Linked DNA regions of Homo sapiens: region 2 is linked to region 1. A link means that fine-mapping ties the variant in region 1 to the expression of a gene that starts in the linked region. Tissue or cell type: monocytes after LPS. Region 1 holds a variant in brackets; the other region holds the start of a gene. All regions are shown on one strand. Distances are from middle to middle.

Region 1 (8,107 bases):
CAATGCCATGTGAGTATTACCACTAATATAATAACTATTCTCATTAGGGCTGGTGTGTATAGGAAACCTAATTCTCCATATGCACAAAAGTTGTGGGAACACCAAAAAAAAAGCACTTATTTTCTGATCACAAGATTAAGCAGAGTGATGCCTATACTGGTTAATAATGGAATTGAGGTCTGGTAGGTGGAAAGACAAGAGGCCCAAGATAAGTAATAAAAGGAGACTCAGACACAGTGTTGGGGTTGGGGGCAACTGAGAGATGATGAGAGGGAGTTCAGCCAGGCCTTCCCTTCCCCTCAAACAGAGGGGCTTAAGAAGCTTAAGGAGAGCTCTCAGTGGAGGAGTCAGCAAAACGGAACTAAAGGAAATGGCCCTGAGGCTGGAGACAGGCTGGAGGCAAATAACTAGACAGAAATGTCCGCAAACAAATTCTAAAAATAAGACTTATCTCCTAAGCTAAACAAAATGAAAATCTACCTATGTGCACATAAATAGAATTCAAACAAAAAATAACCTTTCAAACAGCACTAAAGGGCACATTGAAAAATAAGTCCCTCCTGCCTCAGCCCCCTCAGGAAGCAGTTGGTGGCTGCCTGGCATGGTCTTGGAGTGCTGCCCCCCAGAGTCTTGACCGTCATTACAGGGTGAAAGCATAAATGTTAGGGGAACTCCAGGATCCCTAGAGCTCTAAAACCAGCATCCATCCCTGTGTGTCAGTGCTGAACCAGTTGTTAAATATTTTGAACATCACTGGTATCCTTCTAGAAATATGTGCACATATACAAGTATATCCCTACAACACCTCTTTTTTCCTTTTCATACAAATGGAAGAACTGAATAAAAAGCATTCCACATTTTGCCTTTTTTTGTGCCTACTTGGTCTATCTTTAAATGCATGAATATACATCGTATGTTTTTCTTTCAGAAATAACAGAATTTAGGTTACAGAGATAACAGAATACCTAAAACTGAGATATGGAGCACAGGAGTAACACGAGAGACTTTGGAATAACCTCTTGGAGCTTTTCATTAGGCACCAGTGAACCAGGCCAATGGCGACTGGGGAAACCACTCTGAAAGATGGAATCTGAGTGTGCTAGTCCAGGCTAACAGCGCCCTGCAGGCTTGGGCAAAAGGGAAAAGGAGGGACAAGATCAGTCACATTTGCCCAGGAGGGATCTAAGCTTCCTAGAGCCCTGACTCTTAGTGCCTAAATACAGCAGTTACCGAGAATCAAACCAGCCTCGGGTGGCACCAAGTTAAATTTCAAATTTCACACTCTGAACTTTTTCCAGGGAGTTTTTCCTTCATTCAAAAGAGATATAAAGTGAAGTTCTTCGTAAAAGACCTAAAATTTATTTCTCCTAATTGTCCCATTTTTACCTCAAATGCTGAAGGAAACATAGAGTTTTATTCATGAGAGAGAAAATACTTATAAACTAAACTTGAACTGGATTTTACAGTATATTCTACACATTGAAAAGTCAAGAGCACTAGGTGTACTCTTCTTACAGGTATGTTTATTTAAAAAACCCAAAGAACCAACCGGGCATGGTGGCTCACGCCTATAATCCCAGCACCTTGGGAGGCCGAGGTGGGAGGATCACGACGAGGTCAGGAGATTGAGACCATCTTGGCCAACATGGTAAAATCCCATCTCTACTAACATACAAAAAAAATTAGCTGGGCATGGTGGTGGTGTCCTCCTGTAGTCCCAGCTACTTGGGAGGCTGAGGTAGGGAAATCACTTGAACCCGGGAGGTGGAGGTTGCAGTGAGCGGAGATCACGCCACTGCACTCAGCAAGATTATGTCAAAAACAAAACAAACAAAAACAAAAACAAAACCAGTATGGGACAGGAGGCAAGTGTTAATTTTCCATGTCTCATTTCTGTTTCTATACAACATATTTTCATTATTTTAATATAAATGAGAGAGAGGCAGAGATTGAAGAAGAACATTTAAAACTGAGGGAGTAAACTGCACAGGAAGAGTACACAGAATGGGAGCAGAAAACTATTATCTAATACTTTTGTTGTTCCCTGATGTCCCCAGAAATTTTCAGTCTAGAAAGAGTCATAAAGGAGCAATTTCTGCTGATAGACTGTCACCTAGCGGTGGGTTTTTACCTTATTCATAATATAAGTGGCTGCTGAGCTTTGGAATGTTTTTAGAAAACATGCTCATTACTCCTTAAGATCTCCGGGGAACCTTTTACAATACTGTCACAAGCAGAATGTAACTCACTTTTGTGCTTCCCAAAGGTCTAATGTCCTTGTCGGCAATAGCTAAAACAGGTTGCACATCCTTCAAAAGGAAGTTTTGCCTCTGTAATTATTTGAATATTGTCAAAGAAGCCCTGTAGGCAAAATTAAGATTCGTAACTTTCTCTTCTGTTTACAACTCATAGCACCCTCAGTGTTCTCCTTGCTAATGGTCAAACTAGGCCCATATTTTCTAAAGTTTTCTCCATTTTTAGGTGGTGACAAAAGAGTGTATGTAACCCACTGGTCACATTGGCCTAGAGATACGATTCAGGACAAGGAAGTCACAAACTCAGCAACAAGACAATGTTCCCTAGATTTAATCTATGCCAGGAATCCATCCTGCTTGGTCACAAAGAGGCATTACAGTCCTCTTTGTCCAGTCCTTACTCTCTGTGTGATACCAGCCCTCTTGGCCAGGAGGGTTCCTACTGTTGCCTTAACCCTAGTCAACAGGGAGGCACCCTGCTCCCATCAGTGATAAAGTCTATGTTCAGGCGACAGAGCCAGCACATAGCTCTCTGTTATCAACATCCATTCTGCATGCCATACTATTTCAACCATTTATGCAGTATTGGCACTATATGTGTCACATGAAACAGAACAGATAGACCACATCCACACCAAGAAGTTGTGATCAGAAGGGAAAGCACTGGGTGTTATGAGGAGAGGTTGTCACCTACATTGGGAAGATCTGAGTGAGGTCCCTTTTAGGAAGGTTGCATCTGAGTAGAAGTCAGCCAGATGAAAAGCATCCTTGTCACAATGGAAAAGATAAATAAAATGTGGTATAGCCATACAATGGACATAAAAAGGAATGAAATACTAACTCAATCCACAATATGAATAAATCTTGAAAATGTTATGTATGCTAAATGAAAGAAGCCAGACACAAAAGACCACATAGCATGGCTGGGTGAAGTGGCTCATGCCTGTAATCCCACACTTTGGGAGGTCAAGGCAGGCAATCTCTTGGGCTCAGGGGTCTGAGACCAGCCTGGGTAACATAGTGAGACCTTGTATCTACAAAAAATAAATAGAAAATTAGCCAGATGCAGCACACGATTATAGTCCCAGCTACTTAGGAGGTTGAGGTGGGAGGATAGCTTGAGCCTGGGAGGTCAAAGGTACAGTGAGCTGTGGTCATGTCACTGCACTCTAGCCTAGGTAACAGAGTGAGAGCCCGTCTCAA[A/AACACAC]ACACACACACACACACACACACACACCATATAATTCCATTTATATGAAATGTCCAGAATGGGCAAATCTATAGAAATAGATTAGTGGCGGCCAGGCACAGTGGCTCACGCCTGTAATCCTAACACTTTGGGAGGCTGAGGTGGGCGGATCACCTGAGGTTGGGAGTTTGAGACCAGCCTGACCAACATGGAGATACCCCGCCTCTACTAAAAATACAAAATTAGCCTGGCATGGTGGCGCATGCCTGTAATCCCAGCTACTCCAGAGGCTGAGGCAGGAGAATCACCTGGGAGCCAGAGGTTGTGGTGAGCCAAGATTGCATCATTGCACTCCAGCCTGGGCAACCAAAAAAAAAAGTAAGAAGAAAGAAAGAAATAGATTGGTGGCTGCTTATGGCTGGGGGTGGGGAGGGGGAAATAGAAAAATGAGTGACTACTAATGGCTAGGGTTTTATTGGAGGGAGTGATGAAAATGTTCTAAAATGGTGACACAAGTTGCACAATTCTGTGAATAGACTAAACTACTGAACTATTATACACTTAAATGAATTGTATCATAGTGAAATATATGTCAATAAAGTCGTTACTTAAAAATCTGGAGTCACAGATCTTAGGTTTAAGAATGCCAAATATGGAAGTATATCTCTTGTGTTCAACTCATTTTTTTCCTTCTAGCTCTTTCTCCTTAAGAACCCAGTAAGCATTCACTAAAGGGCTAAGCCAAAAGACAGCTGAGCATGGCCGCACTATGCTGCCCCCTCCTGGGATCCCAAAGGATCTTCTGAACCCAAGCTTATGCACAGGACTTTTCCCTTCTCAAGAGATGTCCCTCTCCTAGTTAGCACTCACGCTCAGAAGATAAACCCTAAAGGACAAGGGTTTTTGTCTCAGGGCCAGCAATCAGTTCAACTTCTATTCGTGGCCTGTTCCCTTCTCTGAAGACCTCTGGACTCTGATGAAAAAATAAACCCTACCTTTTCCATCAGCCCCATTGACACACCCATACAAGCCAGAATTTCCAGAAGTGACTCTCATACCCGGTTACGCATTCTTCACAGTGAATGGAACAGACTCTTGTCCACCTGTGGACAGACCTTTTACTGGAACACAATGGGTAACAACACTTCAAGATCCAACTTAGGTCTCCTTCCTTCATAAGTGTTCCGCAATTTAGCAGTGTTTCAGTTGTTGAAAACCCATTTTCTCTTTTCAGGTTAGTATAGCCTTACCAGAAGATAAGGGGAAACTTTCTGGGGGACCACCCCTCACCCACAGTCAGTTCAGGAGCCTGTGATGGGGGCATCACCTCCAGCTCCAAGGATAGAACATATGACTGTTCTGACCAAGTTCATTGCACCATATCTCCCAAGCTCTTTCCCCTGCACCAGTGGGTTTCAAATTTGAATTGTAGCAAACAAAATCTGATACAAAACCCTGACATACATTTGTTTTAAACAAAGAAGAGTTGATGGTAGTAATATTTCTAAATCTCACCCTCTTGGCCTGCACTTGGATAGACACTATGTCCTGCACTGTGGGAAAAACAAAGGAATAGGACATGATGCCTGCCTTGAACACCTTGCAGTGGAGTTGGGGGCAAGAAACAAAAGCAAGAAAATTAATGATTAAATAATACTACATAATAATAGAAGAAATCTCACAGAGACTGCCGCTTATCAGAAGGGGGTTAGAGGCCTGCAGTTCAGCACTGAGCCTTTTGTTGCCTCTCTTCTTCTAAGCCCTACTCATTGTCTGATATTTAGCTTGGCTGTGACCTTCCCCAGTAAGACGTTTCTGGAACACCCTCCTGCCTCTTCACACACACACACACACACACACACACACACACCACCCCCTTCAGCCCAGATTAGAGCTCAGTGTTCCTGTAATATCTCTGTACAGTCTATCACTGCATTTACCATATTTTAAAACAACGTCTCCCCAACACTTCACAGTATAGGCTCTGAGTTTCATAACGGCACAGAGTGGATACTGTAAGAATGCAGTGAGACTCTCCCTACTCCATGCTCCTTTCTTCCATCTTTTGTTCCACAGATGTCAGCCCTACATCAGTCTGCAGGCTGCTCCTGTCTGCTCCAAATCCCTCCCCCAGTAAGTTTCTTGCACATCTAATCCCATCTTAGCATCTGCTTCTTGGTAGACACTAACAAATTATTATAAGGAATTACTTTGCACTACCATATTTATACAAAAAGTAGTTAGTTCATGCATTTAGAATATTGGTTTGTTGGTTGACAATGTTAAGCCTAATGACCTATACCTTTTGGGTACTGACATACTTAATTTTGCACTTATTAAACTGTGACTTTCCAAAAAAAAAAAAAACTTTCATTGTACCATTAGGATATAATATTCTTGTTAATATTACAAAAACCAAACCAAAACAAAAACCATGCTGCAGCCTTAGGAGAACTTGCTTCATGTAACTAAGGGTTTTTCTTTTTCTTTTCTTTTTGTATTTTTTTTTCCTGTAGGATAACATAGTGTTAAAAGCACAAGCTTCTGGACTACTTGAAATCAAACCACAGCTTAACCAGCTCTATGGCTTTTGGCAAATTACTTCAACTCTTTAAACCTGTTTCTGATCTGTAAAATGGAATGATCCTTGCTCATCTGTAATATATACATTTATAAAACAGGACCCACCAATGGGATTATTTTATGAATTAAATGTTAAAACAGCTAGAACGGTGCAGGCTGAGTAAGCACTGAACACAGTACTTATTAGCTATTATCTCTGGTGCTCTGTGCAACGAAAGAACTATTAGAATACATTTAAAAGCACTTTGCAAACTAGAAAGCCCTTTGAACAATTTAGTTTCTCTAAATGTAATAATAAGCATCAGCCATCGCCTTTTATGGAAAATTGAGGTGGAATCACATCAGCAAGAGAAAACTGAGGACTTGTCTCTGGCTCTGTTCCTGATTTATTCACACAGTACATGATCCTAGAATAAGACTCCTGATACTCCTGAAAGTAGAGGCGGTTGGGTTAAAAATAATTTTCCCTTTCAAAACTCTTTCAAATGTTCTCCAAAAGAAGCCAGGAAAGCTCCCGTATGAGTAGATAATTCACTTTAAAATTCGCTCATCTCTCTTTAACACGAGAGTCTGCAGGGCTGGTGCAGCGGCGTCAACCCGAAGAGACCTGAACGCCGATGGGCAGTTGGGATTCTCCGTACGCCTCGGAAACAGCAGCCCAAACCTCACAACGCAGAACCACGAGATAGTGGGGATTGCAGAGCCCTGCGCAAGAGAAGGAAAATTAAGACGCAGCGGAGCCCAGGAGGTGCCCGCACGCGGGAAGGACTGGCGTGCAGACGAGGCAGGGGGAGGTTTGCACTCGGCGTGGCGCGGGTGAGCCGCGTGCTCTCGGGCACCCGGCCGCCAGTTCGGATGCTTCCGATCCTCGGGGAGCCGGGGCGCTGCGCCGGAGTCACTTCAGCCCATGTTGTTCAGGTGACACCCGGGGAAGAGCAGACTCCAGTGTGCAAAACGTTTCGGGGTTTCCGGGCCAGCGGTTCCGGGCGCGCCTCGCGGGCGGCGGCGCAGAACTACAACCCCCAGGCTCCCTGGCGTGGCGGCACGTGGGCCCGAGCCGGGCGGCCGCGGATATAAAGCGCGGCGGCGGCTGCCGGGCGGAGCGGCTGCACGGACAAGAGCGGAGGCCTGGGTGAGCGCGGCCCGCGACGGCACGGGCTAGGACAGACGGACGCAGACGGCCCGACGACCTGGGCGTTCGGGCGGAGGGGCGCTGGGGCCTGACTCGCGGGTGGGTGAGACGTTGACGGACCCGGAGGAAAGAGGGAAGGCAGATACGCTGGGAAACGGATCTGGGGAAGGTGTGAATGCGAAAAGTGTAGGGACAGACGGGGGCAGAAGAACTTACTCCCCCGGATTGTTTGCAGACAGCATATCTGCCGGGTCTCCAAAGGTCCTTTCCTCAAAATAGAGTTAGCAATTGAGCAGAAGAGAGCTTAAAGTTAAACCTGATACATCCCCCCTTCACTTGAGGAGAAATTGGTGGTTTTCTGCTTTTTTAAAAATCCCTATTTGTATCTCCTCTTCTCCGAGTACCTGTCCCTCAAGATATTCTCTGCCCAGAGGTACATTCTGCCCTCACTTTCTGTCTCTTAAAAAAACAACTTTGCCATTTAAAAAAGAATTTGACTTAGGCAGCTTTAATTCTTTGCACTGAGTGTTCTTATCTGTGGATGGAGGTATAAGATTTCAAGAGTAATACCCCCTCCCAATGTTTCAGTAATAATCTAAATTCACATTAAGCCTTAGGCTGGAGAACATTTGAGCTATTCGCTTTAGCTACGAGCTCTGAAAACTTCAAAGCATAACATTCCCAAGTTTATCTAAAACTTGAATCTTAAAAATAATGATAATTATCTGTTATGCTTCAAAGCATAACATTCCCAAGTTTATTAAAAACTTGAATCTTAAAAATACTGATCATTCTCTGTTAAAGTCTTTTGTTGTTGTTGTTGTTGTTGTTGTTGTTGTTGTTGTTGTTGTTTTTGAGACGGAGTCTCGCTCTTGTCGCCCAGGCCGGACTGCAGTGGCGCTATCTCGGCTCACTGCAAGCTCCACCTCCCAGGTTCACGCCATTCTCCTGCCTC
Region 2 (8,107 bases), 800 kb after region 1:
TAAGCCAGGAGAATCGCTTGAGCCTGGGAGGCGGAGGCTGCGGTGAGCTGAGATCGAGCCCTTGCACTCCAGCCTGGGCAACAAGAGTGAAACTCTGTCTCGGAAAAAGAAAAAAAATTAACATCTACTGCAAACTTTTTCTGTATAAGTGCATACGCTACTTACTTATCTGTAGTAATTTATTCTTATACATATAATGTTAATTTGTATTATCATTTTTGCAGCTGAAGTATATTTCCTCAAATGGATTAAACCAGGTTTTGGAAATGCATTTTGCTGGGATGAAGCCAGGTTTTGATGCAGTTTCATGATCATCCCCATTCTGTGACAGCTCAGTACCTCATAGGAGACCTACATGGGTGACCCCATCAGGGACACTGGTGGGGTGTCACACCAGCTGAGTATCAGGCCCATGGTGGTTACCTAGGCTCATTGTGCCTATGACACAGCTGATTTATAATCTGGTGGCAGACCTGCCTTGCCTCCCCAGTGAGAGCTTCTGCCTCACCTGCTGATTTATTGCATAACTGTCCCCAGAAGGGCCAGTCACATTTCCCAACAGAGGTTGGGAAGGTACTGCTCAAACACCAAGCCCGCAACACTGAGACCCCTTGGGTTTCTCTCTGAAATCCTCCAGTTGGTGCAACATTGAACCACTTACTTCTCTGTCTGGTAGTAGAGCATCCCTCGTTGGAAGTAAGCCACTGCCAAGTGCTTGTCTCGGTTAATGCTTCTGGTAAAGGCCTGAGGAGAGAAGGGTCCAGACATGGCCATGATGCAAGGCAGTGAGGAGGTGTGAGATGAGCCACGGCTCACAGAGCCCTAGCTCCCTGTGGTGCCCAGCTCTGCTGTCTGCCCTCGTCGGCACCTCGAGGCCCACCCTGTGCTCTCACGGTGCACCCCACTTCGCTCTCACATTTAGAAGCTGAAGTCTGGGACAATGGTGTGCATTCCTTGTATTGTCATTCCAGTTCTGCTGTGGATCTACAAAACATTCCTGGAGCCATACATATACCATCTGATTTCTGCTTTTGTTAGTCATATATGGCCTAGAAAAGCTACACAAGAATCCAATAATTCCCAGGTGCGGTTGCTCACACCTGTAATCCCAGCACTTTGGGAGGCCAAGGCAGGTGGATCACTTGAGCCCAGGAGTTCAAGACCAACCTGGGCAAAATAGTGAGACTCCATCTCTACGAAAAATTTAAAAATTAGTCAGATGTGGTGGCACATGCCTGTGGTCCCAGCTACTTGGGGGACTGAGGTAGGTCAATCGCTCAAGCCCAGGAGGTGGAGACTGCCGTGAGCTGTGACGGCACCACTGCACTCCAGCCTGGGCAACAAAGTAAGGCACCCTGTCTCAAAAAAAAAAAAAAAAAAAAAAAAAAAAAATCCAATGATACAAATAAAGACAAAGTGGACTATAAGGGTGCAGACACTAATGGATTATCACCAACAGAAATCTTAGAAGAAAAGAAACACTAAAGCATTTTCCCAAAGGAGCTCATCATTTTAAAAATGGACTTGACAATATGAAGCGCCTTCTTTGTAACTGTCTCTGACCTTCTCTGAGACTAGAATTCAGAATAGATAATTTAGACATTTACCTGATACTAATAAAAAATACATATCTATATTTAAAATATAGTTAGTTATATTTAATGACCTCATTCCCAAGTTCCTTTTTCATTAGTGTAGCTTTCATTTCTATTATCGCTGTTTTAATAATATGATTTAATATGATTAGATAGAAGCTTTGAGCCAGTAGACACTATGTTACTAAATCAGTACTTTAAAATCTTTGGTCTTCTGTCTTTCATTCATATGAATTTAACTGCTGTTTGCTCTAATTTCTTTGAGTTCTCCTAGTTTGAGTAGAGTACAATTTTACTGTGAAACAATGCAGCGAGACTGTGCTATGAAGTGAAGGTAGAGTTTTTGGAGGTGATAATGATGTCAAACTTAAAGATACAATTCCTATCCAACACAACAGAGCACCTTGTCCAGGAGAGTAGTAATTACTATTTATTGCTCTGTGGAAGATAAAAAAGATAGGGAAATAGGAGAAGCTTCTTTGAAAAATGAAACATCATTAGACGGGCTTGGTGGTGCATGCCTGTAATCCCAGCTACTTGGGAGGCTGAGGCAGGAGAATCACTTGAACCCAGGAGGCAGAGGTTGCAGTGAGCCGAGATTGCACCACTGCACTCCAGCCTGGGTGACAGAGTGAGACTCCATCTCAAAAAAAAAAAAAAAGAAAGAAAAAATGATATCTAATGTAATAATGAAATTTTAACCCTTGTTGCATTTCTTGTATTCCTATGAATGTATTGAACATTCAGTTTAAATAAATAATAAAATTTATTGCAAATGAAAATAATTAAAATATTATATAAATTGTTATATTTGTTTACTATACAAACTTATACATGAATAGTATACAATTAAAATGATAATGAATAAGAATGCATATAAATGCTAGTAGGAAGGGCTCAAGCAGGAAAACAAAGAAAGGCAGAAGGAATGAGAAGGCTAGAAGCAGAGGAATGCCAGGAGAAACAGAGACATGTGGGCCTGAAGGCCTGGGAGCTGAGAAGTGAGTGGTGGCCCACACAACCTTGCCAAGGATCCCATATCCAGGCCAAGGCAGGAGGCTACAGTCCCTGCTGGCATAGCTGTGCCCAGACTAGCTGCCAATCTCTTCTCCTGGACAATGTGCACTTTGTGTCCATCAGCCCTCAGAATGTGTGGTGCTGTTCACTCAGCCCCTCAGCAGGCCCCTGAGAGGAGGTGGGGCCATGTCCTTCCTCCAGCCAGAGGTGGGGGGTCCTGCCATGCTCTGCCTTAGAGCCTGAGATTGACTTGTCAAGCTATGTGAGAACATTTCAGTCACTTCTCTGTCTTCCTGTCAGGAGGGTGTGGCTGAGGCTTGTTTACCTACTGTTGGAGTGTGGAAGGGACTGATTCTTTAAGGGACCTGGGGAGTCAACCACTGCCACACCTTGCAAAGACTGGCAGTAATCGGTAAAAATAATAACTAACTCTTATACAGTGGTGTGAAGTTCCACGAGACATTAATAGTTTGGCATCTCACTTAATTTTCATGATATTTAGAAACTCAGGAAGCTGAAAGCCAGATGTCTACATAGGCTACATAGCTTGCTTAAGACTAAAAGTCCAGAGAGAGACAGAGGCTAGGATTCGATCCTAGATCTTCTCCTTCCAAACTCCATACCCTTTCCACCTTACCACAACCAATCAAAAAAATAATTATCGAGAATGCTTAACTCCATACTATGGTATTTGAGTGAGAAAACATAACGAAAAAGATGCGAGACATCCCACACCATGCCCCCAGCAGACATCACTAGTCAATCACAGTACAATTTCCTCTTGCCAGCCTCAGCATCTTTAAAAGAGTCTCCTTTATAATTGATCAGAATTGTCACTTGGGATAAAAGCTATTTTTTGTAAGTGCCTCCCTTAAATCTCTTGAGCAGGCAAAGTCGACACACATGAAAGTCTTGGAAAGCCAAAAGAGGTGCCTTAGAATCAATAATCAGGTGTAAAGCGCTGGGATAGATAGAGATTCTGTGCCCAGAAGGAGTTCTGTGTAGAAGAAAGTACGACTAGGACAGCCTTCACAAAGGTGTTAAAGACACTTGTAGAATGATTTTAATTTAGAAGATGGAGAAAGAGGCAACCCTGGCTGCCCCTCACCTGCTCTCCACCTGGAGAGCTTTTAAAACTGGCTGCCTGGGGCCCCTCCCAGACCAGTTAAATCAGGCTGTCTAGGGGTGGAGCTTGGGCAACTTTTGTTCTTTTCAATCTCCCCAGAGGTTAGGTTTCCGAAATGCAATGGGGTTGAGAATCATAATAACAAATGCACAGAGGAGGCCCGGAAAGAGGCACCTCCACTCACCTTCTCTGCTTCAGTCATGTTCTTCAGGATAGTGTACATGCAGCCAATGTTGAAGCAAATCCGGGAGTGGGGGTCCTGGACGGCACTGAAGGCATCCAGGGCTCCCTTCCAGTCCTTCTTGTCCGCTGCCAGCACCCCTTCATTCCAGAGGCTGATGGCCTCCACCAGGGACATGATTAGGTAGAAACTAGGAGGCCAAGAGAGCTGCCAGGAGACAGAGAGAAGACAGGTTGGAGCGTCTCCCCTAGCAGGGCTGCCTTAGTGGCCCCCAAGGTGTTCACTTTCTGGGCCAGATGAGTAGAATGGGGCCCAGCCTCCCTTAAGATAACTTCTCAGTGTTGCAAATGCATCAGGAAATGTCCCCACCTTTTGGCAACTGACTCATAACCCTACCATGAGAGAGAAAAGGAAAGAAGCAGAGAGAGAGAGGGCGAGTAGGGGTGGAGTGTGGAGGAGAGAGGAAGTACATCAGCTGCTGCCTGAAGGATCAGTTCCCCAAAATGCTTCTGCTCTGTCACCCAGCTCCTCTTCTCTCTCCCACCCCTGTTCTGTGGCAGCTTCTGGCCAAAGTTCTGCTTCTAGAGCCAGGGTAACCTTGGCAGGTAGAGGCACCTCCCTGGTGATAATGACAGGAGGCAGCCAAATGCCTAGGCAGATAGGGGCAGGTCCCTGGTGAAACCCCACCTTCAAGCCAAAAACAGCCTGAAGGCTGAAAGACTAGGCTACTGGTCCCAAATGAAACCCGTGACCTAGAGTGAGAACTTCTGTTCCTGTTTGTCTGCTCTTTCCCAATTAATTATTTCTGACTAATGCCTTTTAACCAATTGAATGTTGCCTTTTCCAGTACTACCTATGTCCTGCCCCTCCCCTATTCTGAGCCCATAAAAGCCCCAGACTCACCCGCACTGGGGGGACTTTCCTGCCTTTGGGTAGGGGAACCACCCCTGCATCCCCTCTCCACTGAAAGCTGTTTTCATCACTCAATAAAACTCCCCACCCAGGCCGAGTGGGCAGGCCATCTCCTGCAGCAGGTAGTGTGGCCCACTGAGGCCTGGGCAGGGTGTCACCAGCCAGAGGTTCCTGGCTTACAAAGTGATGGAGAAAAAATCCTGTGTCACTGGGCCTTGATTTCCACACCCTTGTTAAATGGGAGTGTCAGATGAGAGGATAATTCTTTCCAGTCTTGAATGAATTCCTTGCTCACTTTTTTGTAATCCCATAGGCTGTATTAATATGTTAGTGTTTATCTTGAGCTGAAATTATCATTAACAAATTTTTGAGACAGGATAATCTTTGGAGATCCATCTGATCTGGGCCTGAAATAACTTTTTTTTTTTTTTTTTTGAGACGGAGTTTCACTCTTGTTGCCCAGGCTGGAATGCAGTGACACGATCTCAGCTCATTGCAACCTCTGCCTCCTGGGTTCAAGCAATTCTCCTGCCTCAGCCTCCTGAGTAGCTGGGATTACAGAAGCCTGCCACCACGCCCTGCTAATTTTTGTATTTTTAGTAGAGATGGGGTTTCACCATGTTGGCCAGGCTGATGGTCTCGAACTCCTGACCTCAGGTGATTCGGCCTCCTCGGCCTCCCCTCAAAGTGCTGGGATTACAGGAGTGAGCCACCGTGCCCAGCCGAAATAACTTTTATGAACATTCATGAAGTTCAGAGGGGACCAATTTCCTGCAAATGTCAAAATTGGGAGCCACATGACAGTGAATTATGACTTCTCCCATCTTCCAGTGAAAAATTGAAGAGATGAAAGTCCTGCACTGATGACTAATGGATTTACTAGTCTCTGAAAAAACAGATTTAAGAGTTCTTTCCTTGCTTTTCCAGAAAAGTAAAAATCAGTAAAACCTCCCAGAGGAATAACTGGGGGTAAAGGGTATAGCCAATTTGGCTTGCTAAAATCCAGGCTTCTTTTTAGGTAAAATGCATGTTTATGGGGGTCAAATACTTAGATGCAAACTCTTGTTTTGTAGCAACTGAAAGAATTCACTCATTATCACCAAGCTTCCCCTAAAAGCCTGAAAATAAAACTTAAAAATGTATACTCCACAGTGCTTGTAGGATTGAAGGTGTGAGAATTAAGAAGACATGTGTGTCTTTGTCCAGATTGTTTTCCTGTGTTTACAAGGCCTTCCCAGCTCTCTTCTTTGCCTGGCAAACTCCTACTCATCTTTCAAAGCCCAGTTTAAATGTCACCAACTGTGCTAAATCTAGCCCTGAACTCTGGGTAGTAGGAGAATTTTCCTCTCCTTTGTACCACCTTTACCCAAAAACTTGCATCATACTTACTGCAATTTATCTCTTTATCTGCTCAATTCATGGGCTCCTTGGAAGTTGGGACCATGCCTTTTCATTCTAGGATCTCTAGCACAGATACTCAATACATGATGAAGGGATACATTCTAAAAGAAATTAGAAATCATTGGTAAATGACCTGCAGGTAGCAGTGATGGCAGAAAGAGGTATTGCTATTCCATCTAGTGAATAAATAATCAGGACTTGAATAGCACATTAATTATTCCTGAGAAAACCAAATGGATTTGTAGCTAAATTAGACTTCATTTTTAAAAAATGTTTTTGCCCTCCTATTATCCCACCCTGACACTCAGAACTCTCCTTAATCTGACTGCCAAGACTTTTCTAGCCTTATCCCCAGAACTTTCCTTCACAATCCCATACAAACTCTGCTGCTTACTCTTCTCCCGCTATGCCTTCATTCCTGCATCTGTGCGACTCGTGCTAGTTCCTCTTTCTAGGCTGCCCTCTCCCATGTCTGCACCTTCAAACCCACCTTGCATAGCCTTCGAAGGCCTGCTAAAATAGCACTCTCCTTAACACACTGCCCTGAAATCAGTCCTGCCTGAAAGCGCTCAAACCCATGATCTCGCCTTCTGAACTCCTGCATCTCCTTCTCCGCACCTCCCATGTGGCCCTTAATCACTCTTCACCAATGTATGTGCATGCAAGTCTTAGCACCTCAAATAGTGTGCCTCAGGAGGAAGTCCTGGGCTAACCCATGTTTGTATCCCCCAGGGCACTAGCAAAGCCATTCATGCTCCATTTCATCCACTTTCCCTCCCCTTCTCCTGTCACCACTCAGGCCAAGCCACTATCAACTCCCAGGTGAACATGATAGTCTTTTAACATTTCTTTGCCTCTCCATCCAGATTGAGCTTTTAAAAACACAAGTCAGATCACTTCATGGCCCCTGTTTTTAAACCTTCCATGGCTTTGCACTGCTCTCAGGATATAACCCGAACTCCTTCCCATGCTGCAGGAAGCCCCCTGCCTGCTGCCCTGTGCTCATTCCAGGTCATTTCCCCTCCTCCTCTCCCAAGAACTCCAGCTACACAGGCCTCCTTTCATGGTTTCATATGAGCCAGCCTCTTCCTCCGCCCATGTAACACTCTTCCCCCAAGCCTGCCTGGCTAGTTCCTACTCATCTTTCACTTCCTCAATGAGTGGCCTTTCTAGATCCATGACCTTGCTATGTGCACGGTTCTCTCTGATCATGTATTTGTTACAGTTTGTAACTGTATGTCATCTGTGACATTGTTTCTGTCCCTCAATGCAGGGGCAGTCTATTTAATCATTACTTGGTGCTGTTAGTAGACGGTCTGTTCAGCCACTGTCCATTCGCCTTCCTCCTTTTGGTAGAACCCCAGTTCTGTTCAAGCCTCCAGTTTCCTGAAGCCATGCGCTTCAGGAGGGAAAGTCTGCTAAGAATTTCTGGGAAAGATTTCTTCCCCAGTGATAAAAAATAAAACACATGAGAAGAAACAGCACTTGTTTCTCTACTAGACAGCATTGTGAGATGTGTCTGGAATATGGCAGCTGTCTTATAATCATGAGGGGAGACAACTAAGAACAAGCCATTGTCTGAAAGAAAAGAGAATGGAAAATTACAAAGAGCTCAGATGCTTAGTTATGCTGATGAGATGTGTTGCATTATCTGTTTTCTGCAAATCTGGCTGGGCACAATGGCTCACATCTGTAATCCCAACACTTAGGTGGGAAGATCCCTTGAGGTCAGGAGTTAGAGACCAGCCTGGGCAATGAAGCCAGACCCCATCTCTACAGAAAAACACTAAAAATTAGCCAGGCATGGTGGCACATGCCTGTAGCCCCAGCTTCTCAGGAGGCTAAGGTGGGAGGATCATTTGAGCTCAGGACTTC

What was found. PIP is the estimated chance that this variant, and not a neighbour inherited with it, causes the effect.
Region 2: it holds the start of NCF2, and the variant in region 1 is fine-mapped to the expression of NCF2 in monocytes after LPS (Fairfax 2014, PIP 0.95).

The regions. Positions count from the first base shown.
Region 1 is chr1:182,782,654-182,790,760 of GRCh38, forward strand. NPL (N-acetylneuraminate pyruvate lyase) reads left to right here and starts at 7,120. Exons shown (of 13, transcript NM_030769.3): 1 at 7,120-7,152. RefSeq lists an enhancer at 6,773-7,273. The variant A/AACACAC (reference allele first, on the strand shown) is at 3,459.
Region 2 is chr1:183,586,234-183,594,340 of GRCh38, forward strand. NCF2 (neutrophil cytosolic factor 2) reads right to left here and starts at 4,226. Exons shown (of 15, transcript NM_000433.4): 1 at 3,923-4,226; 2 at 662-744. The coding sequence starts at 4,096. It also overlaps the pseudogene C18orf32P1. RefSeq lists enhancers at 4,246-4,505, 4,616-4,955, 7,576-7,635.